7 linked regions of the Homo sapiens genome follow. The protein of the gene in region 7 purifies or fractionates together with the protein of the main gene of each other region. This does not show direct contact. Each region holds a gene or a part of one and is shown on either strand. Other genes may lie near its edges.

Region 1 (3,500 bases), on a different chromosome or scaffold from region 7:
ACCCTACCTTTCCCACTGCTCAAGCTCAAAGCTCCCCATTTTCTTGCTCAGAGGCTGCCTGGATGTCTTCCGGTTAGATAAGAAGTCCCCCGACATGACCCCACCAGGAGAGGGACGTGTGCCCGTGCTTTATCCCTTCCTATCAGACGGTAAGCCCCCTGAGTGGGGAATCTGTCTCCGACTTAGACCCCAGCCCTGAACACAAGGCTCTGGGCCGACAAAGGATGACAGTGGGCGTGCAAATCTTGGCAGAGTCCCTCCATGCACTGTCAGCTCGCTCTCCATTAGAAACTGACACAGAGAGGGACCCCGTTTGCAGATAGGATGCCATATTTCAGCTCCCCAAATCCAGAATGTGCGGTCCCTCGGAGTCTCGCCGGGACAGACCACAGCACGGGACAACAGAAAAGGCAGTGAGACATTTCATGCAAAAGCAACAGAAACTGGCTGCTTACCTGAGCTCACACAGCCCTGCTGCAGCGGGTCCTGGAGCGATGTCACGGAGTGGAGGACTAAAGTAGAAAAAGGTTATAATTAAAGGAAGGAACGCGGCCCAGGGCTTAAAGCTTCCTAACTGAATGTGGCAAGGCCCGGGGAGGCTTCCCATTCCTCCTGGGGAGGGGCGGGCATGGGGACCCACGGGCCGGGGAGGCGCTGCTGTTGCAAGGCCAGGCCCCCGGGCCGGGAGCAGGTGAAAGGTTTCGCCTGTGACATCTTCCACTTTTGTACCTTTGGCTGACTTTCTTTCCTGACTCCCTGATTCAGCTACTTGACTTTTACCTGTATTTATGTATAAACAGCATTTTTTAAATTGGTAACTCATTTTCTGCTGCTTATAAAATTAGACAGGCATGATCTCTCCTAAACACTGAAGTCAGTCCCACGGCAACAGGTTGTGGAGGAAGGGGACGGTTCTGTCCCCCAGCACCAGCCCACGGTGGGGAGTGTGGTTGGCCACCTCCTGGGGCGGAGTTCCCTCCTCCCTCTCTGCATAGCCCAGGTGGGGCTGCTGTGACCAGGTCCTTGCTATGGGGGGGCAGCCCCTCTCCTGTGGCAGGACCCCCATTACCTGGCCCTTGCTGCTGGCCCTGGACGGGTAGAACACCCTGGCCTAGCTCGCCGTTCAGCCAGAGCTGCATCCGGATGAAGGGTTCTCGGCCTTTCTGCGTCAGCTTGCTCCATGGCTTCGGTCGGGACAGCATGTCGCTGACGCTGCCCTGGGACAGGCCCAGCACCTGGAGTGGCACCGAACACACAGGCCATCAGTGCCTGGCTATTAGCATGACACCACAGATGCTGCTGCAATGCACACCCACCACGCAGAGGGCGCGTCTAGGGCTGACTTCTGAGCACAGAACCACGGCCTGGTGGCGGTGACAGCTTGTGGGCAGGGAATATGCATTTAAAGATCAACGGTGGCTGAGACCCCGGCACAGGGGGACTTTCGGGTGAGCCATGGTTACAGCCACAGCTCTCAGCTCCCAGGGAGGGAAGAGGGTCTCATCCCAGGGTCTTGATCCTGCCAAGATGGCAGGGCTGTCACCCTGACACCCCGCGGAGGAGGTGTGTACAAGCACCTTGCTCTTCACTTGGTGGCACCGGGAAAGGCTAAGGTTCCAGGGACAAGATCCCTCCAGAGGTGGGGCAGTGGGTGCCGGTGGGACTGGCGAAGCTGGTGTCCTCTGCAAACGCTGAGCCAGGCCAGCATTTAGAAAGGTCTGCTTGTTCTGACCACATCCTGATCAAAGGTGGGGGCCCAGAGGTGAGCTGGTGGGACCTGGGGAGCCGGCCTGGGAGTGACATTCCGCCGCAGATGATTGCCGAGTTGCGTGTACACACCCGAGTTTTCTGACGCTCCCATATGGCCATACATATGTATAGGCACAAACACCCCCCACAGGACACAGATGCCGCCCTGGGATATTTAGGGGCTGCATCCGATCACTCTTTTGAAAAGTTCTCAAGTTCCAGAATAAAACTGCACTCACGGGCCAAACAAGTTCAATGTTATTAAGTCTCTGCTAAATTTAAGGCATGAGCACGAATGTCTATTTCAATGTTCTCAAATGGTATTTTTACAACACTGAACTAGAAATCTCAAGGGACTTGAAATACTCATCCTCATTTCTAGTCGCCCCCCTTCACCTTTTGCAAAATCAGGGCAAAGTTCGCCATCGGACACCACCGGGATTCACAGCACAGCATACGGCAAACACTGAGTGGAAGGCGGGGTGGGGAGTGCGGGGACGGCGCCATGCAGGGACCCTGGCTTGGCAGGGGAGGGGGTGGGATTTGTCCCCTGCTGATCCAGCCACGTGCTCCCTCAGGAAGGTGCCTTTTAGGGGAGAGGGGTGCTTCTCCTTCTATTCAGCACTCCGTTATTTAATCTAAAATGGTAGGGGGTTGGGAGGCCAAGGCAGGCAGATCACTTGAGGTCAGGAGACCAGCCTGGCCAACATGGTGAAACCCTGACTCGACTAAAAATAGAAAAATTAGCTGGGTGTGGTGGTGGGCACTCGTAATCCCAGCTACTCAGGAGGCTGAAGCAGGAGAATCGCTTGAACCCAGGAGGCAGAGGTTGCAGTGAGCCGAGATAGCGTCACTGCACTCTAGCATGGGCGACAGAGTGAGACGCCATCTCAAAAAATAAATAAATAAAATGATACTAGGACATGATGTTTATTTTAGATTTGGCAGGCACGGTTAACCCTCATTCTCCTGAATCTCAGTGACCAGGAAAGTGCCAAGAACAGAAAGGCCTAGAAGCTCGTCCATGCACGATTACACTTTCCTGAGCCAGGGAAGGATGATAGGGAAACACGGGCCACCCTGCTTGGGCCATCCCCAAGCTGTGTGTCCCCGGGCAGGTTGCTTGACCTCTCTGACTGAACAATATCCAAGAGTTACACAGAAAGGAACAATAATGCTCTCTGCAGCTTTTTCTAGTAAGTCCCTTTTGGCTCTCTGCGTACTGGTGGTCCCTCTGTGTGATCAGATGGGATTTTTTTTGGCCAAGGAAGCCTGCAGGGGTGCCTCTCAGCTCCCCTTGGCAGCAAAAGCTGGATGTGGACTCGGCTGCCGGTCAGCTTGGGGCAAGTAGTTAACGTCCCCAAGCCTTGGTGTCCTTCCCTGTCAATTGGGGATTTTACCATCCACTTCCCAGCGCCAAGTGAGGGGTCGAAAGGGCAGCATGCAGGTGAAAGGCTGAGCCTAGAACCTGGCTGCAGTCGGGGCTCGGCAAATGGGATCGGGGCTGCAATGTTCACCAGCCGCACCTTGGAAGTCTGGGAGCAGAGGATGCCTTACGCTCTGCTCTTGGGTGAATTGAAATGGGTGAGGGTCACAGGCTGCGGGATAGATACTTGGTCCTCAGCAAGGAGAAGAGATGGGAGAACCAAAGCCCCCAGAGCAGATCCCTTACCTTCTCCCCGAAGATTCTCTGGCAGATGCCGTTCTTGGCCAGCTTTTCCTTAACCTGCCGGGTGAGCTCGATGGTGTCC
Region 2 (3,500 bases), on a different chromosome or scaffold from region 7:
GTGGATCGGGGCTTTCCCTTGACACAGTGCTCCTCACTAGGGATGGTCTTCCCCTCCTGGGCACACTGAAATCTGGAGACTTTTTTTTATTATCAAGACTGGGGAGGAGGAGGTGCTCCTGGCATCTAGCAGGTGGAGGCCAGGGATATTGCTCAACATCCTACAGAGCACTGGATGGTCTCACACAATAGTGAATAAACAGCCCCAAATGTCAACAGTGCTGATACTGGGGAAACCCTGGTCTAGAATCTAGCAAATCCTTGCAGCCCCGAGGTTTAAGAGGAGCGCTGGGAGGTCAGGGCCCAGATCCGGGTTGGATCATCATGAGTTCACTCCTGCTGAGGGGGCAAGGACCATGGGAAAGGCAAGGAGCCTGACTGAGCAAGGGGGCCCAGATGCTGCCCCCACCTCTCCGGACCATGATAGACAAGCCCTGGCATAATACACAGACCCCCGTCCCCAGACCCAGAAAATCGAGGCGTTTGGTACTACCAGCTCCCTGCTGCTCCAGCCCCAGGTGGGCTCCTGGCTTTTGGGCCCTCTCCCTGTGAGCCCTGAGACAGACAGATAGATGTGGAGATGAGGCTGTAGCCGGGCTCCTGGGGCCCTCTGGACTCACCTGTCCGGTGGCCTGGCCCGAGCCATCCGAGCACACAAACTGCACAAACTCCTTCAGTGAGTCCTGCCCGTGGTGGTGGTGGTAGCGGATGGTCGGGTGCGTGAAATACGGGCTCGACTGCTGGATGATGGACGTGGAGGGGAAGTGCAGGGCTGATGCTGTGGCCCGGGGGCTCCCTGCATGCACGTGGGCAGGGAAAAAAGGGCGTCAGGGCCAAGGAGGCAGCCAGTGGGAGGGACAGGAGAGGAGGGGAGCTGCCGGTCAGAGGGTCCTGAGGATCCTGAGCAGGTAAGGCAGCCGCCACAGGCACAAAAGTTAAGGCGGCACAAAAAAGTCAGTCATCAGGATCCATGATGTTTTAATGCAATACAAAAATAATAATAATAATAATAATCAAATAGGCAAACTAGGGTCCAAAGGCCAGCCATTTGTTTTTGTAAATAAAGTTTGATCACAACCAGCGCTGGGAGATTAGGATGAGGCAGATGAGGCAGGGTAGGATCTTGTCTTTATTTTATTTGGCTTTTTAAAAAAGTGTTATTATTATTATTTGAGACAGGGTCTCGCTCTGTCATCCAGACTGGAGTGCAGTGGCACAAACACGGATCACGGCAAGCAATCCTCCTGGGCTCATGCAATCCTCCCACCTCAGCCCCCCAAGTAACCAGCACTACAGGTGCACGCCACCAGGCCTGGTAGATTTTTGCTTTTTTTTTTTTCTAGAGATGAGATTTTGCCATATTGTCCTGGTTAATCTCAAACTCCTGGGCTCAAGTGATCTGCCTGCCTTGGCCTCCCAAAGTGCTGGGATTACAGGCATGAGCCACTGTGCCCAGCCTAAAGAATTTTTTTTTTTGAGACTGAGTCTCGCTCTCTCACCCAGGCTGGAGTGCAGTGGTGCGATCTCAGCTCACTGCAAGCTCTGCCTCCCGGGTTCACGCCATTCTCCTGCCTCAGCCTCCCGAGTAGCTGGGACTACAGGCGCCCACCACCACGCCCGGCTAATTTTTTGTATTTTTAGTAGAGACAGGGTTTCACCGTGTTAGCCAGAATGGTCTCGATCTCCTGACCTTGTGATCCGCCCACCTCAGCCTCCCAAAGTGCTGGGATTACAGGCGTGAGACACCGCGCCCAGCCAGTATCTGTTAAATAGAGACAGGATCTCGCCCTGTCATCCAGGCTGTAGTGCAGTGGCATGATCACAGCTCGCTGCAGCCTCGAACTCCTGGCCTCAAGCAGTCTTCCTGCCTTGGCCTCCCAAAGTACAGGGATTACAAGCATGAGCCACTGTGCCCAGCCTCAACATTTTAAACCATTTTAAACAAAGACATGGCTGAGTGCTGTGGCTCATACCTGTAATCCCAGTGCTTTGGGAGGCCAAGGTGGGAGGATCACTTGATCCAGGAGTTGGAGGTCAGCCTGGGAAACATAACAAGACCCCGTCTCTACAACAAACATTTAAAAATTAGCCAGGGTGGCACACAGGAGGGATCACTTGAGTCTGGGAGTTCAAGGCTTCAGTGAGCTATAATCGTGCCACTGCATTCAGCCTGAGTAATAGAGCAGGAAACTGTCTTTGAAAAAAGAAAAAGAAAAACAAACAAAAAAACTGGTGTTTGCTTACCATACCCTTTTTTTTGCAATAGTTTGGATTTTAAAACATATTCCATTAAAATATTATTTATCTTGATGACTGAGTTTTTGATACTTGCTGACACTCTGCACCTAAGGTGAGTGCCTCACTAGCCCTGCCTTAATTCAGGCCCTGGGTGGGAGACTGGGTGGGGGACAAGAGGAGGCAGAGGGTTCCCTGGGGCTCTGGATGAAGACAAAGCCAGCATCTGCTCAGGATGGCCGTCTGACATATGCACACACATCTCCTGAGTGCGAGCTGGTGTGCACCCAGCCACCGCCACCTAGGCGGTGTTCTCATGTGCTCAGCCTCATCACTCACACACGTGTCCTCACATACGCGTCCTTGCACACGCAATTCCCAACCCAGAGCAGGCCCCAGCTCTTCCTCCTCCCGTCTGTTTCCAATCAGCTCGCTCTTGCTCTCGGTTTCATTAGGGGGCTGAGGAAACTTGGCTTCTCTCTGGAGTTCATAAAAGCTGAGGTGGAGCCGGAGGAGCCAGGCCTGCGCCCTCCTGCTGCCTGTGTAGAGGGCCTGGGCTCCCCACCCCCACCTCGCGGCCACCACACCCTGCCCCAGCACCGGCTGCCTCTGGGCTCCCAGCCAGGAGGCCCCAAGGAGGAAGCCAGGAGGTAAACCTCCTCATTTTCTGTGTCCTACATACGAGCCCAGGAGATGGCAGGCGGACATAGGGCCATATCCAGAAAAAGTCCAGGCCTCTTGCTGCCAGGTGGGTGCCCAGAGAGGGAAGAAGAAAGTGAAGGAGTGACAGGGCTGAGGTCTCAGCTCCCACAGCCTCCTGCCTGATCCTATCTCCTCAGGGCGATCTAGGTGTTCTCATCCTGAGCACCTTCTCAACTGGGACACTGAAGTCAGAGAGCAGCCCCACGGCAGTGGGCAGTTCCTTTTCCTGGGGAGCAGCCCAGGTACCACCTGTCCCCTAGACCCAGCCCTTCCTTTCTAGAAAGCGGCAGGGAGGCCCAGACAAGGTAGCTACTTGCCGCAGGAGCCTGGGCTCCTTAGGAGTACTCTTCTCCATCCAGGCCCCACATCAACCTGGGCTCATGCTGGCAAAAATCCAGAGCCTGGGCTCAGCCAGGAGCTGGGAGAGAGGAGCCGGCAGGAAGGCAGAGCAGAAGGCTGTGCCTTCCCGCTCACAGCTGGCAGGACAAAAGGAGAACTGGGCCAGAGTTGGGGAGGACTCGGGACAGGCTTGTGTTGTATGTAGCACCCATGCACGTGAGGAGT
Region 3 (3,500 bases), on a different chromosome or scaffold from region 7:
AGGGTAATGTAAGAAAGTCTTAAAAATGTGGCTCATCTTTTAAACATTAATTTCAAACTATTTTTATTTAACATTTGGTATTGTTAAACAGGTATAGTATTCAGGACATACACCTTCTACCACAATTTCTTTAATTAGGGTACTTTATATTTTATCAAAAATGTGCATATTAATAGATTGTAGTTTAGCCTTTGTCAAAAGACATGCAAGTATTTAGTATTTACATTAAAAGGATTGCCTCAGAAGAAACATTGAATTCATAAGCCCTCTTAAAAAGTCAAAAATATGCATAAAGAAGACTAGTATTGATATTTTCTGATATTTTAGATATGATTAATATTTTGGACCTCCATTGGTTTCCACACTATCATGCAAATTTCCAACTTGCTTTAACACAACAGTTCTATCAGCTGTATTAGAGGGAATACACATTTTAATTGCTCTTTTTGAAAATATCACCAGGCAGTTCAGAATGTCTCATTTATTGAGAATATTGTGACAATCAAAGACCTTAATATCAGCCAGATGCTAACAATTGGGAATAGGGCAGAATTTAATAATGGAATGTATGGGATTCTCATTTTTACTCAATCTTGAATCATCTGAGAATGTTTTCTATTCAAGCCAGTATTTTTAGATAAACACAGATATAGATATCGCTACTTTGAAAAAAATCACTTATTTTAAACTCAGAATTTCTTAGTACTAAATGCTAACCAATACACATTTTATACATAATATGTACAGACTTTGTTACCAAGCGCCACACAACTAGGACATACATATTAGTTACCTTGGTTTTCAAAGGTTGTCAACTCTGCATATTGTGTGGCAAGGAGATACTATCAACATTTTTTTTTGCATAATGTGCAAGTATTATATGGCCACAGAGTGTAATACAAATTAGTGGCAAAGTGCTGAGTGAAGGGAATCCATGACAGATTCAGATGCACAAGGTTGAATATTACCCGTAAACTACCTGACTCTGCTAAGGTCTTAACAGCACAAAACGCTATGTCATGCCCAGCTTTTAAAAGTCTCTGAAATACTTGGACACAATGAAGCTTGTTAAAGGAATTTTACCATAGCCACAGGTAACAAGAGGAGGATTGGCATGAGCGATAAATGACATTGGGGGAGCAATATGGAAGATCATCTGGGCAAGTCTTTTCTAAAATGTGCCATCTTCCCTGAAAACAATTTTGCTCACTCCATCCTATCAGTTTATTAACATGTGCTTGTGTGTGTGTGTGTGTGTGTGTGTGTGTATGTGTGGGCATTTAAAATATCAAATTATCAAAACCACGCTGACTTTTAAAAGTTAAAAAATCTAAGTGGGAATTTTGTTAGCATTGTTATGTTGATTACCAAACAAACATTCAAACATTCATCATTTCACTGAAAACACTATTTCAAAATAATTTAGGTTATTAGGAATTGGAAAGTTATTTGCAACCCAAACTTAGGGGATATAAGGAAGAGGAAGATAACTTCATGGCATTTGAGTTTCTATTTTATTTCCTATTTTTTAAATACATGAAACCTAGTTTCTATTTTCTTAATTCAAATTCCTTTGGCTCAAATTATTACTTTTCTGAACTCTAGTGAGCCAGAATGTTTGTTTTCTTACTAAATAAAAAGTGGCAACTTTTCAGTACAATTTTAAGTTTGCAACAAACCAGCTGCCTTCAGAGGAGCTTAGCTGTGCTTCAAAAGTAAATGGAACTTTAAAGCTTTATTGAAAGTTTTCAATGATTCCACTTCAGTTTCTAAAGTACAAGTTCAACACTAAAGCAGCCCAGTTGCCTACCAATAAGCTCATCAGGGCCTGAGAAGATGGTAGGCAGAAAGAGAAGGGGCAATTGCAAAATGGTATCTCAAGCAACCCAGATACCCCTACTAGCATCTAGGAAACAAAGTGAGGGAGCAAATAAAAGAAAAATCACCCCAAACTGTAATGCTGGCCTCAATCCTGTGACCATTAGCACACCTCATTTTATATTCTGGCATTTTACTATGTTTAATGTTGCAAGAATTTTGAAGATTGTGTTTAAATACCAGGTGTGTTATTCCTATTTTCTTCATGTAGCTCTTATAGTTATGAGATACACTTACGAGCTCAGTTATTAACTTATTCCACTTATAACTTGTGAAAAAAAAAAGCTAAGGGGTTTTTATACAGAAGGTCCATTTTTTCCCCTACTTATTTTGTTACTATTAATGGCCTTTAGAAATATTTATACATTAGCTTAAGGAAAAGCATTGCTATAAATGAAGTATTGTGAAATAAGCACAGATGAATCCATTCTAACAACATAACTGCTAGAGACTGGATTTGTTTTTGTCGGAGAGTCTTTTGACCATCCTATCTCTACTTATTAAGCAAAATGTTAACCAAACAGGTTATTTTCATTGTGAAATTTCATACCTATTTAAAAATGAGCATGTGTTTGTGATTTAAATTTACAGTGTTTCAAGTAACTTGTCAATTGCTCTTTTTAAAATCAGTGAAATAACAAGTTATTAACATGCACCTAAATGAGAGGGCCATCCTTTGACTCCTTTAGTTACTTCACATAAGCAGACAAACCCTACCATGTCATACGATACAAACAATTTTAATTGTGTAGTTACAGTCAATAACCACTCCTAGTCAGAACATTTCTGCATAAAGAAAATTGTGATACACTTATAAAAACAGCCAGCTGTAACAAAATAGCTGTTTTCATAGCCATAAACTCATAAAAAAGAAATACACCTTTATACAGAAATTTTATACAGATGTAGCTTTAAAATTGATTGTAAACCAAAGGAAGACACATTGCAAACATCAATTATTTTCACATTAATTGCATAATTTTCTAAGGTGATCTATTAGTTTTATTTACCTAAGCTTATTTGCATGATAGTAAAAATTGCATACAACAATAAGAGTGAAGCTTATAGTATGAATTGCTTGGATAACATAGAGCACTTTTTATAGGCAACTGTGTAAAGCACATTTTCTCTATTTAAAACTTTTAAGACACTTTGTTTTACTGCCCATCAAAATACATTTATAAATAGAAAAGAATCAGTATGGTAACAAGAGAAGCAATATTACATTTAACGGAAACTTCCAAAAAATTAATTACAACATGATGCTGCAGGATCTACAAATAAATAATGAGGACTAAATTGTGTTTCACATTTTCTTTTCCTTTTTTTAAAAAATCATGTAACAATGAGAATGAAAAAAAAGTACAGTGAACTTTTATTTCCAAAATAAAAACAAATTTGAATTACGGCAGTGCCATATAATACAAGGCATTTGTTGGCATATGTCATCTTTAAACTGCATTCCACAGTCTATAGTTCTTTTGTAACATACAATAGAGTAACAAACTCTTTTTTTTCTTTTTTTTTTTTAAATAAGGGGCAAGTTTCCAAAGATCAGTGTGGAGTGCTACAGAAATAATTATAGGAGAGGAAATCATAATCACAGAAGGTATAATGCTTGT
Region 4 (3,500 bases), on a different chromosome or scaffold from region 7:
GGCCCTTTACGGTTCCTTTTCACCTTGCAGATGGCTCTTTCTCATCCACATCAAAATATTTTGGTGCAAAAGAAAATGCTGCACGGAGTTATTCACCTTAATATATAGGGGGTTCGTACAGATTGATAAAAACACAAAGACCCTAAAAGCAATATAGGCAAAGATCAAAGAATAAATATAATGGGCAAAATGATGAACAAATGCCCAACTCCCTTGTTTAACTCAAAGGCAGATCCATCCATCAGATCAACAGACATTAAAATAGAAACAAACATTGTATGATTCCCTTTACATGAAACTTCCAGAATAGGCACATCCACAGAGTCCAAAAACAAATGAGTGGGTGCCAGGGGCTGAAGCACGAGGGGGACTGGGGTGACAGGCTCCTTTTGGGATGATGAAAACGTTCTGGAATTAAAGGTGATAGTTGTTCAACACTGTGAATATAACTAAAAAACACTGAAAATGGTGAGAAAGGTGAATTTTATCTAAAAAAAAAAAAAAATGAAAGGCCAACAGGTGACACCGGCTAATCTATGGTGAGTGGCATTTTCTCTTTCTTTCTTTCTTTCTTTCTTTCTTTCTTTCTTTCTTTCTTTCTTTCTCTCTTTCTTTCTTTCTTCTCTTCTTTCTCTTTTTTTTTTTTTGAGACAGAGTCTCTCTGTGTTGCTCAGGCTGGAGTGCAGTGGCATGATCTCACTGAAACCTGCCTCCTGGGTTCAAGCAATTCTCCTGCCTCAGCCTCCCCAGTTTTGCCAGGTTGGCCAGGCTGGTCTCAAACTCCTGACCTCAAGTGGTCCGCCTACCTTGCCCTCCCATAGTTTGCCATTATGGCAAACTATGCAGCCATTGCAGGTGTGAGCCACGGCGCCTGGCCCAGTGAGAGGCATTTTCATGTGTGATGGAAGGATGAGTTGGTGGAAAGCAGTCTGATAGCTCACACCCTCTGACACACTGATCTCACTTCTAGGAATTGATCCTATGGAAATTGTGAGCAGGTCTGTGTGTGCAAACACAGACTTACCTACAAAGGGTTTCATTGCAATATTGCTGAAAATTCAGGGAAAAGGGGTGGGGAGAGACTTAACTCTTCAACGGTAGGGAAAAGAGTAAATACATTATGGCAAACTATGCAGCCATTAAAATGATGATTAATAAGAAATTGTTATATTATGGGAAATGTGTGATACAATGTTAACAGAAGAAAAGACAAGATTCAGAAATGTGTAAAGTATAACCCTAATTATGAAAAAGTGGGCACGTGCATACACTACCCCCTCCAACAAACTGTGTGATCCTAGACTAGCTACCAACCCCCCTGTGACTCAATTTCCTCATTTATAAAAAAAGGATAATCAGTCCTTACTTCATATGGTTGTTGAAAGATTAGATGATCTATTTGAGGATTTAGAACACTGGCAGACACAGCTGAAGGGCTCAATACATATTAACTTTTATCTGACTGAAAATGACAGATAATTTTCACTTTCTTCTTTTCAGCTTTCCTTGACTTTCTAAATTTCCAACGAGGAGGAGGTTTAACCAGAATGAAATGGTTTTGTTTTTTACATGGGAGAGAAGATTGTGGGGGTTGGGAGGCAGGAATCCAGTCTCCATCAAGCCCCACCACCCCGTCAGGATGAACCTGGGGACATGAGGCAGTGTTGCGTAACGAGCATGCCACCGGCTGGAGAGGGGTCTCTCCCGGACCATGCAGAGAGCAGCGCTTTTCTGCCCAGGCTTAACATCTGCATCTCAGCCGACTCAGATCACTGCTCAAGGGTATAGGCAAAGGCCATGGCAAAGAGAGAAGCCTGACAATGCTTCTCCTTTGGGGGTTTGCTTCTCTAATGAAAAGATACATGGTGTCTACTTCCAGCTCATTTCACAGGATTGCCTCATTCTACCCCCACTACAACAGTGGGAGGTGGGAGGTGGGCAGCACCAGGAAACCGGGGCCAACAGAGCTTGAGGGCACAGCTGGAGTCCAGCCCAGGTGTCCTCAAAGTGGCAGCTGTGGGAGGAGGGAGCAGCGGCCTCTGGAAAGTTCTCTATAGCTATTAGGTTGGTATAGAAGTACTTGCGATTTTTGCCATTACTTTTTTTTTGGAGACGGAGTCTTGGCTTTGCCACCCAGGCTGGAGTGCAGTGGCATGAGCTCAGCTCACTGCAACCTCCGCCTCCCAGGTTCAAGTGATTCTCCTGCCTCAGCCTCCCGAGTAGCTGGGATTACAGGCACCCACGACCACACCCGGCTAATTTTTTGTAGTTTAGTAGAGACGGGGTTTCACTATGTTGGCCAGGCTGGTCTCTAACTCCTGACCTCATGATCTGCCTGCCTTGGCCTCCCAAAGTTCTGGGATTACAGGCGTGAGCCACCGCATCTGGCTGCTATTACTTTCAAAGTAATACATTGAATAATACGTATGGGGGTGAGGTGGGCTCACCTTTTAAGGGAGACTTGGCCAATTTGTTTATGGTCCAAAATAACCAAGAGATGCAGCAGGCTCAGACTGAGGATCCATCCACGGATTTCAAGAGGACTAGTGCTCGCTAAGCTCTTCAACCTCAAAATCTATTCAAGCCCTTAGGAATATGGCCCCATGCTTTTTTCTTTTTGCTTTTTTTTTGCTTTTTTTTTTTTTTTTTTTTTGAGACAGGGTCTTGCTCTTTTGCCCAGGCTGGAGTGCAGTGGTACAATCTCGGCTCACTGCAACCTCCGTCTCCTGGGTTCAAGAGATTCTCCCTGCCTCAGACTCCTGAATAGCTGGGATTACAGGCGAATGCCACCACGCCCGGCTAAGTTTTGTATTGTTTAGTAGAGACGGGGTTTCACCATGTTGGCCAGGCTGGTCTCAAACTCCTGACCCCAAGTGACCCGCCCGCCTTGGCCTCCCAAAGTGGACATTGAAATGTTTTAATAGCTGCACATGGCCTGTGTTCTCTTTGTGGTCTGGGCTTGGCCCATTCTGGGCAGGAGCCTACCTAGAGAGCCGGGTGAAATTCTCAACAACCTTGGAAGAATAGCCATGTGGACATCACGGTTCTTCCAAACCATGGACAGCCCAGTGTCCCATGACACAAACTGTCAGGTTTACTGACACTGATCCCTTCTCCACCTATGGACCAGGCTGTGCTCAGCCCCCCCTGAGGGTCTGGGTCAACAGATCACAAGCCTTTGCCAGCTCCCCCTACATACAAGAAAAAGTCTCCCAAACATGAAACAAAGAAAGCGGGGAGGCAGAGCTCGGCTTTCCTGAGGCCAGGCTGGAGCATGGTGCCTTTAATCAGCCACCTCAGGTGGTGGGTGAGGCGTGGGGTGGGAGGGTCACAGTGGTTCCATTTATGATGATCCCGTGTTCACTTTTCTTTACAGAATGTTCTGGGGCCGGGTATGGTGGCTCATGCCTGTAATCCCAACACTTTGGGAGGTCAAGATGGGAGGATCACTTGAACACAGGAGCTTAAGCCCAGCCTGGGCAACATAGCAAGACCCCATC
Region 5 (3,500 bases), on a different chromosome or scaffold from region 7:
ACCCAGCACAAAAACTCATTTTTCAATGACTCATTAATCATACGACAATTTCAAAACTAATAAAAATTTAAATCGCCTACATAATAGAAATACATTTCAATTCAACCAGAGATCCAACACACTTTCGAATAAAGAGAGAAAAAATGTATTAACTGACTTAACAAAAACGCTATTTATTTAACTCACGCAGTATTGCTTAAAGAGTATCTACAAAATTCTTACCTCAATGTTTTCTTGCAAGAGACGTGGAAACCAAAAGTAAACAGACCCTCTTTAACAATGAACCACTGATAAACATAAAATATTTATAACTGGTATAACATTTCACTTAGGTGCATTTTTTGAGTGTTAACTTGCATCAGGCAATCCAATTTACCAACATTTATCAGATTTCTCCCCAGTGAGAGTTTTCACTTAACTTTTTTTTTTTTTTTTTTTTTTTTGAGATGGAGTTTCACTCTCACTCAGGCTGGAGTGCAGTGGCATGATCTCGGCTCACTGCAGCCTCCGCCTCCTGGGTTCAAGGGATTCTTCTGCCTCAGCCTCCTGAGTAGCTGAGACTACAGGCACGCATCACCACGCCCAGCTAATTTTTTTGTTTTGTTCTGTTTTAGTAGAGATGGTGTTTTACCATCTTGCCCAGGCTGGTCTTGAACTCCTGACCTCAAGTGATCCGCCCACCTTGGCCTCCCAAAGTGCTAGGACTACAGACATGAGCCACTGTGCCCAGCCCCTTAACTTCTGAAGTAATCATTAAATTTGGAAACATTCCTGTATTTTCCAAATTATTGAGGTTTCAATCCAGCATGCTTTCTTTCATTTGTAAGGTCCATCTACAGCGTGTGTTATCATGTGTCTCTGAACAGGTATCAGATAAATGAAAGCATTCCTACATTCTGTACGTTCACAGGGTTTTTCTCAGAAATCAGTTGTTTTATGTCTTCAAATTATTCCTGCATTTTTTAACTCAACATCTTTCCTATGAATGTCTTTACCTTAAAATAATAATCTTCTTCTTCATCATCTTTGCCTGCTGTACTTTATTAATCCTTCAAGGTCTAACCCATTGACAACCTAATACTCTAGAGTGTTGTTTACATATGTGCTTGCCCATTATCTTTTTCCTCTTTGCACCCACATAGAGCTTAGCTTCCTGCCTTGCATTTACGAGGGTGCTGAAATTTTAATCTACTGTTTTCTTGAAGGCTTACCATATTCATTCTCCTGGAAGTATTCCTCACCTCCAGCTCACCATGAACCTCCACCACAACTATTGCTTACACTCTCCAACATTACTCATAACACTTCACATTTTACTCTAATTATCTGGTTACCTGGTTTTCACCACTAGATCGTTAGCTCCCCGAGATTATGCACATCTGCTTTGTTCTTACTCATATAAGGGCTAGGTAAGTTTTTCTCAACATGCGGCCCCGGATCAGTACCATCATAATCACCTGGGATCTTGTTAGAAATGTCCATTTCTGAGTCCAACCTCAGACTTACTCAATCAGAAACTATGGGATGAGGCCCAGCAGTCTGTGTTTCACAGCCCTCCAGGTGATTCTGATGCACACTCCAGTTTAAGAACTACTAGCAGAAAAGAATGTCTTACATATAAGCACCCTCAATAAAAATAAGACGTGTGAATTAACTGTTTACATTTTCAACATTTAGTGTTATAATTGGCATATAATTCTCTCAAACATTAAAAATAAAAGTAAACTATCCATTATCATTTTATCAATATCTTAAATCTAACTTTTATGTTTTGAAGGATTTTTATAAATTTTTAAATAAAACTTTACTTATAAAATTATAAAACATAATTTTATTTCTTTTATAACGTTCAAAACCAAGGGAAAAAAATAGATTGTCTGGGCATGCATAGTTTTATAATTTGTTTTAAAAAATGGCAAGAGACTGATAATCACAAAATTCAAGATCAGGGTTACATCTGCAAACAGTAAATGGAGAGGATGAGAGAGTACATACCCAAGTCATTAGTAACATTTGGGGTCCTGAGTTGCATGTTGGGTTCAAAGATGTCCATTACCTCATCAAAATTAATCAATTAGTTAATTAATCATGGTCATGCATGGATCAATGGTAATAGCGTTTCATTAACTAAGGATTATTAATTAATCTAATTCTATGTCCTGAGATCCATAAAGCTTTTTAAAGAGATAAAAATAATTATAACCTATCTCAATTCTGTCCCCAGTATTACTGTTAATTACAGTGTTTAATGCTAATTGTACCTGTGTGCGGTTGAATGCCACTCTTGCAAAGACAGCTTGGGACACACTGGCCCTCTTCAGCTCATCTCTGACTTGCTGGTAGATATCTGGAGAGACTTCCACGGAAGAGTTGGTTGGCTCTGGCTTAACTGCTCTGGGGATGGGTGGATGGTTCAGGAACTGCTGGTTGATGGCTTGAGGATGCTGGTGAGCCAGGAGCCGGCTAACGGCAATCTGTTGGTTTATCAGATGGGCCATGGCTATTTGTTGCCTTACAAGTTGTGGACTAAGCTGGGGAGAAAGAAGACCAGGGCTCATGATGGGCTGTAATGCGGGCACTTGGTTTCGGATTGGAGTACTGTGGTGAATTTGGCTGTGAGGAGACTGTTCGTTGGTTTTCCCCAGGGATGCCAGCTGGTTCATATTTGGTAAATGCATTGGACGCTGGCCCAGAACACAATAGTCTGAAAGGTTTTCTCGTTCCACTCTTTCCACTGTTAAGAGATAAAAGTGATAATTAATCATTATTTTCATTGGTACAATTTATTGCTAATATATGTAGAACTGAATTATCATACTTTTGGCATGTTAATAATATAAACATTTTTTCATACAACGATGGAAGCTCCAGCATAAAAGTGATATTCTTTTCTGCTAAATGTTACAATAGATTTTTTTCATGGAACATATGAAAGAAAGTAAAATTATTTGCCACTTCAATTAGTTAAAATTCTTAAAAGTAAGCATTTCTTTAAATAGCCAAGACAGAAACCACTGACCATTCTAAATCCTCTTAGATCCCCCAAGCTCTATCATCTCCCCAATCAACCTTTGTTATAAAAGCACCAGCTGTTCCTATCTTCTGTAGTATGTAGTTAATGGTTATCAGGAAATGACAAGGATAACATCTCCTGCCAAATTAAGTGCTACCTTCTAGTAAAAAGCTCACATAAATATTATTATACAGCTATGGAAATGTTCATTTAAAAATGTCTGCCACATAGTATATCCATTTATTGACTCACTTGCTATCTTTTTTATAGAAATGTTTCTTTAAGAAATTGATATTTTAAACATTGTGCTATGCACTCAGATAAGAAAAAAAATCACAAAATTAATAACATCACCTCAACTTGCCATTAAATGAAGTTCTCCTCAGGTTATCTGCTTTATTACATTATATTGTGCTTTAATAAAGATTAAAAGAATAACTTTGAAAGGGAAAAGTAAGTATCATATATATACAAGCATAAGGCAAGT
Region 6 (2,886 bases), on a different chromosome or scaffold from region 7:
TAGACTGATTACACTGAGGTGAGGCTACAAGGGGTGTGTAACCGTGTAACACGTGAAGGCAATGCTCACCTCTTCTTTACCAGAACGGTTCTTTGACCAGCACATTAACTTCTGGACTGCCGGCTCTAGTACCTTTTCAGTAAAGTGGTTCTCTGCCTTTTTACTATACAGCATACCACGCCACAGGGTTAGAACCAACGAAGAAAATAAAATGAGGGTGCCCAGCTTATAAGAATGGTGTTAGGGGGATGAGCATGCTGTTTATGAACGGAAATCATGATTTCCCTTGTAGAAAGTGAGGCTCAGATTAAATTTTAGAATATTTTCTAAATGTCTTTTTCACAATCATGTACTGGGAAGGCAATTTCATACTAAACTGATTAAATAATACATTTATAATCTACAACTGTTTGCACTTACAGCTTTTTTTGTAAATATAAACTATAATTTATTGTCTATTTTATATCTGTTTTGCTGTAACATTGAAGGAAAGACCAGACTTTTAAAAAAAAAGAGTTTATTTAGAAAGTATCATAGTGTAAACAAACAAATTGTACCACTTTGATTTTCTTGGAATACAAGACTCGTGATGCAAAGCTGAAGTTGTGTGTACAAGACTCTTGACAGTTGTGCTTCTCTAGGAGGTTGGGTTTTTTTAAAAAAAGAATTATCTGTGAACCATACGTGATTAATAAAGATTTCCTTTAAGGCAGAGGCTGGTCGAGATGCTGCTGTTATCTTCTGCCTCAGACAGACAGTATAAGTGGTCTTGTTTCTAAGATTCCTACCACCAGTTACTTTGGGCCAAGTATCCACATCCCCTTGCGTATGGGAGGTGGGTGAAGAGTGTTGGATGCAAAGTGGTTATTATGGGAAGTAGCTCGATGGTAAAAGGACAAACACCTATCTATCTTAGAGCTTAAGCCTGTATGTGCTTATTCCCAAGGGAGATAGAGGTGTTTAATCACAAGGACAGCATGAGTTAGAGGACACTGGCATCAACAGCTGCCACAGCCGTGCACACCAGGGCCAGAGCAGCCCACTGACATCTGTCTTTGGTCTTGAGATCAAATGCATCCCATTCTTCATACATTAGAAGGTCGACCTCCTTGAAGCAGACCAAGTATAGCAAGCCTCTAAAAGGACTACTGAGAAACAGAATCAGAAACTCTAGAACTCTAGTTAGGGCCCTTCAGCAGGGCTGCAGAGCCTCCCTGGATACCCAGGCCTGGGAAAGCCTGTCTGGTCTTGTCACCCCAGGTGACAAATACAACTGGAATCTTTCAATGAGTTAATGAGATACTGAGAATGAGCCTCGTGGAATTTTCCATGCCTACCCTTTCTAAGGAAGACATCCAACAGTTCATGTGGGCTCTGGCTTCGTGTTAACATGAGGAACTAAAGACATGTTTCACCCCGTGAGAAACAGAAGGATCCCCTGAACAGTAACTGATTTGACAAGTATCGACACATAAAGTTATGGCATCAGCATTCTCTTACTCAGGCACGGTCAGAAGTAACGCTGCTTTCATCACGGCTAACCTCTCACACTGAGAGAAGTATTCACAGCAACAGAAGCTCCAGCAGCGGCCGTGAAGGTATCTTCCAGAGGTGTGGGTTTTTGCATTTCAATCTGCTCCATGCTACGGACCAACACAGTATTGAGTCAACTGTGACCTTAAGATCAGAGGAACGTCAATACTGCCACAAGGCCACCTTTCCAGAACTCGTGGGCAGGTAAACTATGCTTTGGATGTGCTTTCTTTCACCAAAATCACTCAACTCAGGAGCCACAAATAGTCCAGCAATTTCATTTCCCTCAACGCTATTTTAGTCTCAAAGGAAACCATGTAAATTTCATCAAGAGAAGGTCAAAGGGGATATATCGCCACTGAAAATGTTTACACAGTGACCATGAGTTACACATTTACTTAGAGAAACTTAACTTAATAAAGAATCTGTAGAGTGTGTTGGCTTGGAAAACACACACACAAAGAAGATACCTCACGCTTAGTATGTTCTGCTTTCTGAACAGCCACCACTGGGAACCCAGTGGCCTCTGTGGGACTGAACTCCTAAACGCAGGGTGCGGGAGCTGGGCAGGAGAGGTGACCTCCAACTGTGTTCCTAAAGTTCGTCTTTCGCTTGGCTCAGGACAAAGCGGTGTAACGAGTCAAGGTCTCTGCCTCCACTGTGCTCACTGACTTTCTTCCCTCCTCGGAAAAGCAATAACGTGGGGTAGCCTCGTACCTTAAAACAAAAAAGAAAAAAGTTTGCAAACCAGCGGTCCAGATCACATGCAAATTGCTTCCTAAATAAAACCAGATACACTCCTACCGTTGTGGCTGGAAAAATTCTGTGGCTAATTTTTAAAGGTGTATATTCCATTAAAACAGGAGCAGACTACTGTTTAGAAAGCACAGCCGTGGGGCTGTGTGTTCACTTCTGAATTCAAAATGACATCATTAAAGATCAGCCTCAAAGGAACGACTTTACCCTAAAGCAGACGCTTTCAGTCTTTACTGTGCACACGATCACCTGCGGATCTGCTGAAGGTGCAGATTTGGATTGAGCAGGCCTGGGAGTCTGCATTTCCAATGACCTCCCTGGCGATGCCCTGGTGGTCTGCAGACCAGACCATGAGAGCAAGATCCTCTTGAGGATACATGTTTCAGTGGCAACTCGTTTCTAAGAATTTTAGGGCACAAAAAACAACTGGTATCTTTTAATGATAAGGAAACTATGTCTGGGTTACGTCTATTCTCCATCTAAAGGGCTCCAAAAGTGTCTGAATAACAAAGAAGAAAAAAAATGACAAATCTTCCAGGCCATCAGACTGTGCTAACAGCTTGGAATGAAGGCAGTAGTTAACCCAAGCACAGGACC
Region 7 (4,213 bases):
GCATGCTCCACACTTGTGCCAGATGACCACCACTGTGCCCCGGCCAGGGTTGATATTACCTCTCTCCTTGGAATGAGATAGTCACTGGGGAAGAGCTGACTTGTCCATACCCTCAGGCCAGAAGCCAAATCCCAGAACTTGCTGGGCAGCAGTGCTGGTACTAGGTCCTTAGAGCCTTTAGCTCCAGGAAGAGACACAAGTGGGCTTAGAGGCCAGTGCAAGGGTCAGGGAGATGGAGGAGGGAAAGAATGACCAGGGACAGGAGACAAGGGGATGGAGGGCAAAGAAGATGAAAAGGAAGCAGAGAGAAGGAGGTGAGGACAGGGTCTGGGGGAACAGCAGAGAAAGCTGTCAGGGAGCAGGGACAGGCTCCAGGCCTGAGTCCAGCTGGGACCAGGGAAGCCAATTCCTAGGGCTTCACCCTCAACATGAACTCTAAGGGGCCAGAGACCAGGGCAACAGCCACTCAGGTTTCTGTTTCTATCCTCCAAATAATGAAGAGTAGCCTGGGATGAAGACACAGAACCAGGGAGCCCCCATCTCCACCCCCACAGACACCCACATGCTCACACAGGACTAGGTTGCTGACCCACAGCAGAGACGTGTGCACAGACATGAGCATGTCAACACACGGACGACACACGGGCCTGGGTCCGGGGACACAGAGACACAGACACAGGGGAAGACATGCAGACACACGCCCACCCAGGAGACAGATGTACAGACCCAGGGAGAGATGCAGACAGACTCGCATGTATCTGCCCCTGAGGGAGAGGGAGATGGGAGTCACCAGCACATGCTCCAGTGGGTGCACACGCCCCCACCCACAAGGAGACACCCTCGAGGTGCTGCGGGAGCTGTGGAGAGACAGACAGATGGCCGGCCCCATGGACAGACAGTTCCCAGCAAATCTGTGCTAATGCTTGGCCCTTGAAGGGCCCAACCTGTCCATGCCGTGCCTCAGAGAACCCTGGGCTGCCACCCAGCGCTGTTCCCCAGAACCTCATGAGTGGGCTCCATGAGCATACATGTGGCGGCCAGGCTCTCCTGACACACGTGCATGCTCCAACAGGCCTGTGCCCCACCTGTGGGTGGGGGGGCGACATCTCCCTTCTGGAGTGCAGGCGGGGGCCACGGGACAACCCCCTCCTCTACAAGCCACAGGCTGTGCGCACTGGCAGGGACAGGGGAGGGGGCCTGGGCTAGCTCAGGAGGAGGGAGGGGTTGGGGGGCCAGGGTGCGGCTGGGGCGGGCACGGGAGCCGGTACCTGTCAAACAAGAGCCAAGGAGCAAACTAGCTTCTTAGTCACCTTTCTCTTCTCCCCGTTTTGGCGCAGCCCCTCCGGGCAAGGGGAAGCTGATATCATAATTATTGGCTCACCTGGCAGCTGCCTCCCCTCACCTGATGTCAGCACAGACACAGGACGGCCGAGCTGACGGACTGACAGACGGACAGAGCTCCTGGCCCCCCAGACCCGGGCCCCCACGCCGACCTGCTTCACTGAGCAGGTAAGAGGAGCCCCGGCCCAAGTCAGCCGTGGAGGCCAGCAGGGCCGGGCTGGGGCACGGGGAGGGCGTTCGCCTTTTTAACGGGGCTCAGGAGTGACGGGGAGCACCCAGGTTCTCACTGCAGCTCAAGGGAGACTCAGAATTCGGGTGAGTGCCTGGAGGCCAAGGGGCACCCCTTCCCCCACCTCCCCCTCCAGTTCCTTTTCTAGGTTGTCCAACTTTAATCCCTCTTGCTGTGGTGTGGGTCTCATTCTGGTGTGTGCTGGATTTTGTGTGTGTCTCTGTGTGTTGGAGATGCGCTCACCCACCCTGTGCTGGGAGGAAATGAGGACTCAAAAGTGTTAGATCTGGAAAACTAGAGCTGAAAGGCAGGGGGCCAAGTTCTCCATGTAGTGGTTTTCCAGGTGAAGAAGGGAGAGCCCAGCTCTGGGAGCTGGGGAGCACCAAGGGTGTGTGCAGATCAAGGAATTGCTCAACATCTCCACGCAGCCTGGGCTGGGGTCTAGATGCCTGGGCCCATGCAGAGGCCTGGGTTGCAGAAAGGAGATGGTGCACCTTGTGGCGAAGCAGACAGGTGGCAAACAGGTGCTGTGGCCATGAGTTGATGCTGGGCTTAGGGCAGAGTCGCCTCCTATCCCCAGCTCCATTTCTCTCCCGCAAGACCCCTAAGGCAGAGTCCTGGTGAGCAGAGCTGGGCCAGGCAGGGAGCCCTGAGGCCTTTGGGGCCTAGAGTTGGGGGCGTGGGAAGTGAAGGCCCTTAGGGAAGTGGCCGAAGCAGCAGGAAGCCCCTGCCAGCTCCCCCGACTCCTCCCCACCCACTACCCGCTCAGATAAGGTTCTGGCATTCCCCGTGGAGTCCCCCAGGCCCTCCCTAAATATCCAAAGAAGCCCGTTGGATGAAGAGTAGACTCTAGCAAGTGGGCGTGTTTGCCTCTTCTCTCGGCACCTACAGGCATGGGGGATATGTCTGGATGTGCTTTGTGGCAATGCACAACTGGTCAGTGGGAAGGGACCCGGGCGGAGGGGCTCATCTTGGGAAGTCATCCTATCCATCCCCTGCCCCTATGCCAGTCATTGCCCACATCGGGCAGGGCTGCCCCTCCTAGTTTTCCTAATCCCTGAAGGAGAAAATCTGGTCAGTTTCCTCACAATCATGAAGTCCTTCCTGGAGCCTCTCTGAAGTCTTTACTGCTGCAGGGTCCAGCTCTGCTTGCCCGGTAGCCTTCTTCCTCCCGCACTGAGGAACACTAGTTCCTCGGATCCGAGGGCGGCGTTGCACTGCAGTCCTGTCCCCACCGGGCTTGGCTCAGAACCTTTTACCATCTTGCTCATTCCCTGACCACAAGACACAGGCAGTACAAGGGCACCCCGAGTGGATGGGGGAAGGGGCAGGGCCTCCTATCCTGGTCCCTTTCTCTTGTGGCTCTGTGAGGGGTCCAGGGTGAGCCAGGCAGGGACAGAGCCAGGCTGAGTCCTGGAGAGGGGCAGACGGGGTGAGGGCTGCCCCAGGTTGGGGATCCTCAAAGGCGAAGGAGCCACAGGGAGAGGCGCATGTCCTCCCGGCTCCCCGCCCAGCCCCGCCCCGCCCGCGCTGCCTGTGCGAGCTCAGCTCCCGGCTCCAGGGCCTGCCGAGGCACGCTGCACCCCCAGGCCCGGCGCCTCACTCACTCCCAGAGCCAGAAACCTGTTCTCCCGGGAATGCCAGGGAGTTCTCAGAGGACTTTATTTCCCAGGGGCTCAGGGAGCCCCAGAATCTTCTGGACCAGTGGGTCCTGGGAAACTAGAGAAAAATTAGGGGGCTTAGGACCCCTCCCTGCTCCCCAGCTTTGTCTCATCCACGCACTGACGCCACATTGCCTCCAACCAACAGCCGTCTTCACCGTGAGAAGGCTTCATCGCGAGAAGGCTTAGGAAAGTTAAAGACAAGGGGGAAAGCCCACTGGTGACATGCACCTTCTGTCATGTGCCATCCGTTGCCTCAGGGAAAGCCTTCCTTTCCCCCCATCCCCCAGACAGTCCCATCTGGCCTCTAAGAAAGCAACATATCGCCTCTTTCCTTGGACTCTTCACCTTCTCTAGCTAGGAAGTCCTTCCTGATGTCTAACCTCTCCCTTTCTGGCTTGAGTTGACACCTGGTCTTCATGGACCAGCAGAACCCCCATTGCCTGCACAGGGCCCAGGCACATAGGCAGAGACTGTTCTAAGTCACAATGAAATGCCCTGGTTGCTTGGGCGCTGGCAGGGACAGAAAGGCCCCACTCTCGCTGCGCCTCTTATTCTCTCTGACTCCACATTCTGACGAAGTTGCGGTCCACTTCTGCCTGCCTCCCCATCTGCCCATAACAAAAGGATGGAGGGGACCGAGGTCCTGCAGGTATGCCCTCCCCTCTGTCCTTCCAAATCACAGCCTGCCATCCCTGCTGTGGCTGGCAGAGGGGAGTTCAGGAAACCAGGATTGGCTTCTGCAGCAGGAGTGACTGACAGAGTTCAGAGAAAGTTCTCAGCATTTTAGGTTGAGTTTGACTGGACTATGTGACCACAGGAGGTGGTTTCCTGAGTGGAGAGGCAACCATTGATCTGGGGTGGGTGGGGTTGGGCTGGCAACATGCCCAGGAGCTGGGGAAGGATGAGAGGACCTCCAGGAGCTGGGGAAAGACAAGATGACCTCTGGGAGAGGGCCTCCCAGAAGCACGAACCACATGGT

The links.
Region 1: the proteins of FOXN1 (region 7) and CUX1 purify together in Homo sapiens (affinity purification with mass spectrometry, with the first as the bait; one large-scale study listed by BioGRID). This does not show direct contact.
Region 2: the proteins of FOXN1 (region 7) and NFIX purify together in Homo sapiens (affinity purification with mass spectrometry; one large-scale study listed by BioGRID and IntAct). This does not show direct contact.
Region 3: the proteins of FOXN1 (region 7) and SATB1 purify together in Homo sapiens (affinity purification with mass spectrometry; one large-scale study listed by BioGRID and IntAct). This does not show direct contact.
Region 4: the proteins of FOXN1 (region 7) and SIM2 purify together in Homo sapiens (affinity purification with mass spectrometry; one large-scale study listed by BioGRID and IntAct). This does not show direct contact.
Region 5: the proteins of FOXN1 (region 7) and SATB2 purify together in Homo sapiens (affinity purification with mass spectrometry; one large-scale study listed by BioGRID and IntAct). This does not show direct contact.
Region 6: the proteins of FOXN1 (region 7) and TXNDC5 purify together in Homo sapiens (affinity purification with mass spectrometry; one large-scale study listed by BioGRID and IntAct). This does not show direct contact.

The regions. Positions count from the first base shown.
Region 1 is NC_000007.14:102,202,126-102,205,625, reverse strand, and holds part of CUX1 (Homeobox protein cut-like 1), read right to left. Parts: coding exon 3,422-3,500; intron 1,236-3,421; coding exon 1,070-1,235; intron 513-1,069; coding exon 456-512; intron 1-455. UniProt on the Homo sapiens protein: May be involved in intra-Golgi retrograde transport.
Region 2 is NC_000019.10:13,078,975-13,082,474, reverse strand, and holds part of NFIX (nuclear factor 1 X-type), read right to left. Parts: intron 796-3,500; coding exon 620-795; intron 1-619.
Region 3 is NC_000003.12:18,345,340-18,348,839, forward strand, and holds the end of SATB1 (DNA-binding protein SATB1), read right to left. Parts: 3' UTR 38-3,500; downstream 1-37. UniProt on the Homo sapiens protein: Crucial silencing factor contributing to the initiation of X inactivation mediated by Xist RNA that occurs during embryogenesis and in lymphoma.
Region 4 is NC_000021.9:36,737,115-36,740,614, reverse strand, and holds part of SIM2 (single-minded homolog 2 long isoform), read right to left. Parts: intron 1-3,500. UniProt on the Homo sapiens protein: Transcription factor that may be a master gene of CNS development in cooperation with Arnt. It may have pleiotropic effects in the tissues expressed during development.
Region 5 is NC_000002.12:199,346,440-199,349,939, forward strand, and holds part of SATB2 (DNA-binding protein SATB2), read right to left. Parts: intron 2,735-3,500; coding exon 2,262-2,734; intron 1-2,261. UniProt on the Homo sapiens protein: Binds to DNA, at nuclear matrix- or scaffold-associated regions. Thought to recognize the sugar-phosphate structure of double-stranded DNA.
Region 6 is NC_000006.12:7,881,017-7,883,902, forward strand, and holds the end of TXNDC5 (thioredoxin domain-containing protein 5 isoform 1 precursor), read right to left. Parts: intron 2,251-2,886; coding exon 2,128-2,250; 3' UTR 501-2,127; downstream 1-500. UniProt on the Homo sapiens protein: Protein disulfide isomerase of the endoplasmic reticulum lumen involved in the formation of disulfide bonds in proteins. Can reduce insulin disulfide bonds.
Region 7 is NC_000017.11:28,504,935-28,509,147, forward strand, and holds the start of FOXN1 (forkhead box protein N1), read left to right. Parts: upstream 1-1,413; 5' UTR 1,414-1,509; intron 1,510-4,213. UniProt on the Homo sapiens protein: Transcriptional regulator which regulates the development, differentiation, and function of thymic epithelial cells (TECs) both in the prenatal and postnatal thymus.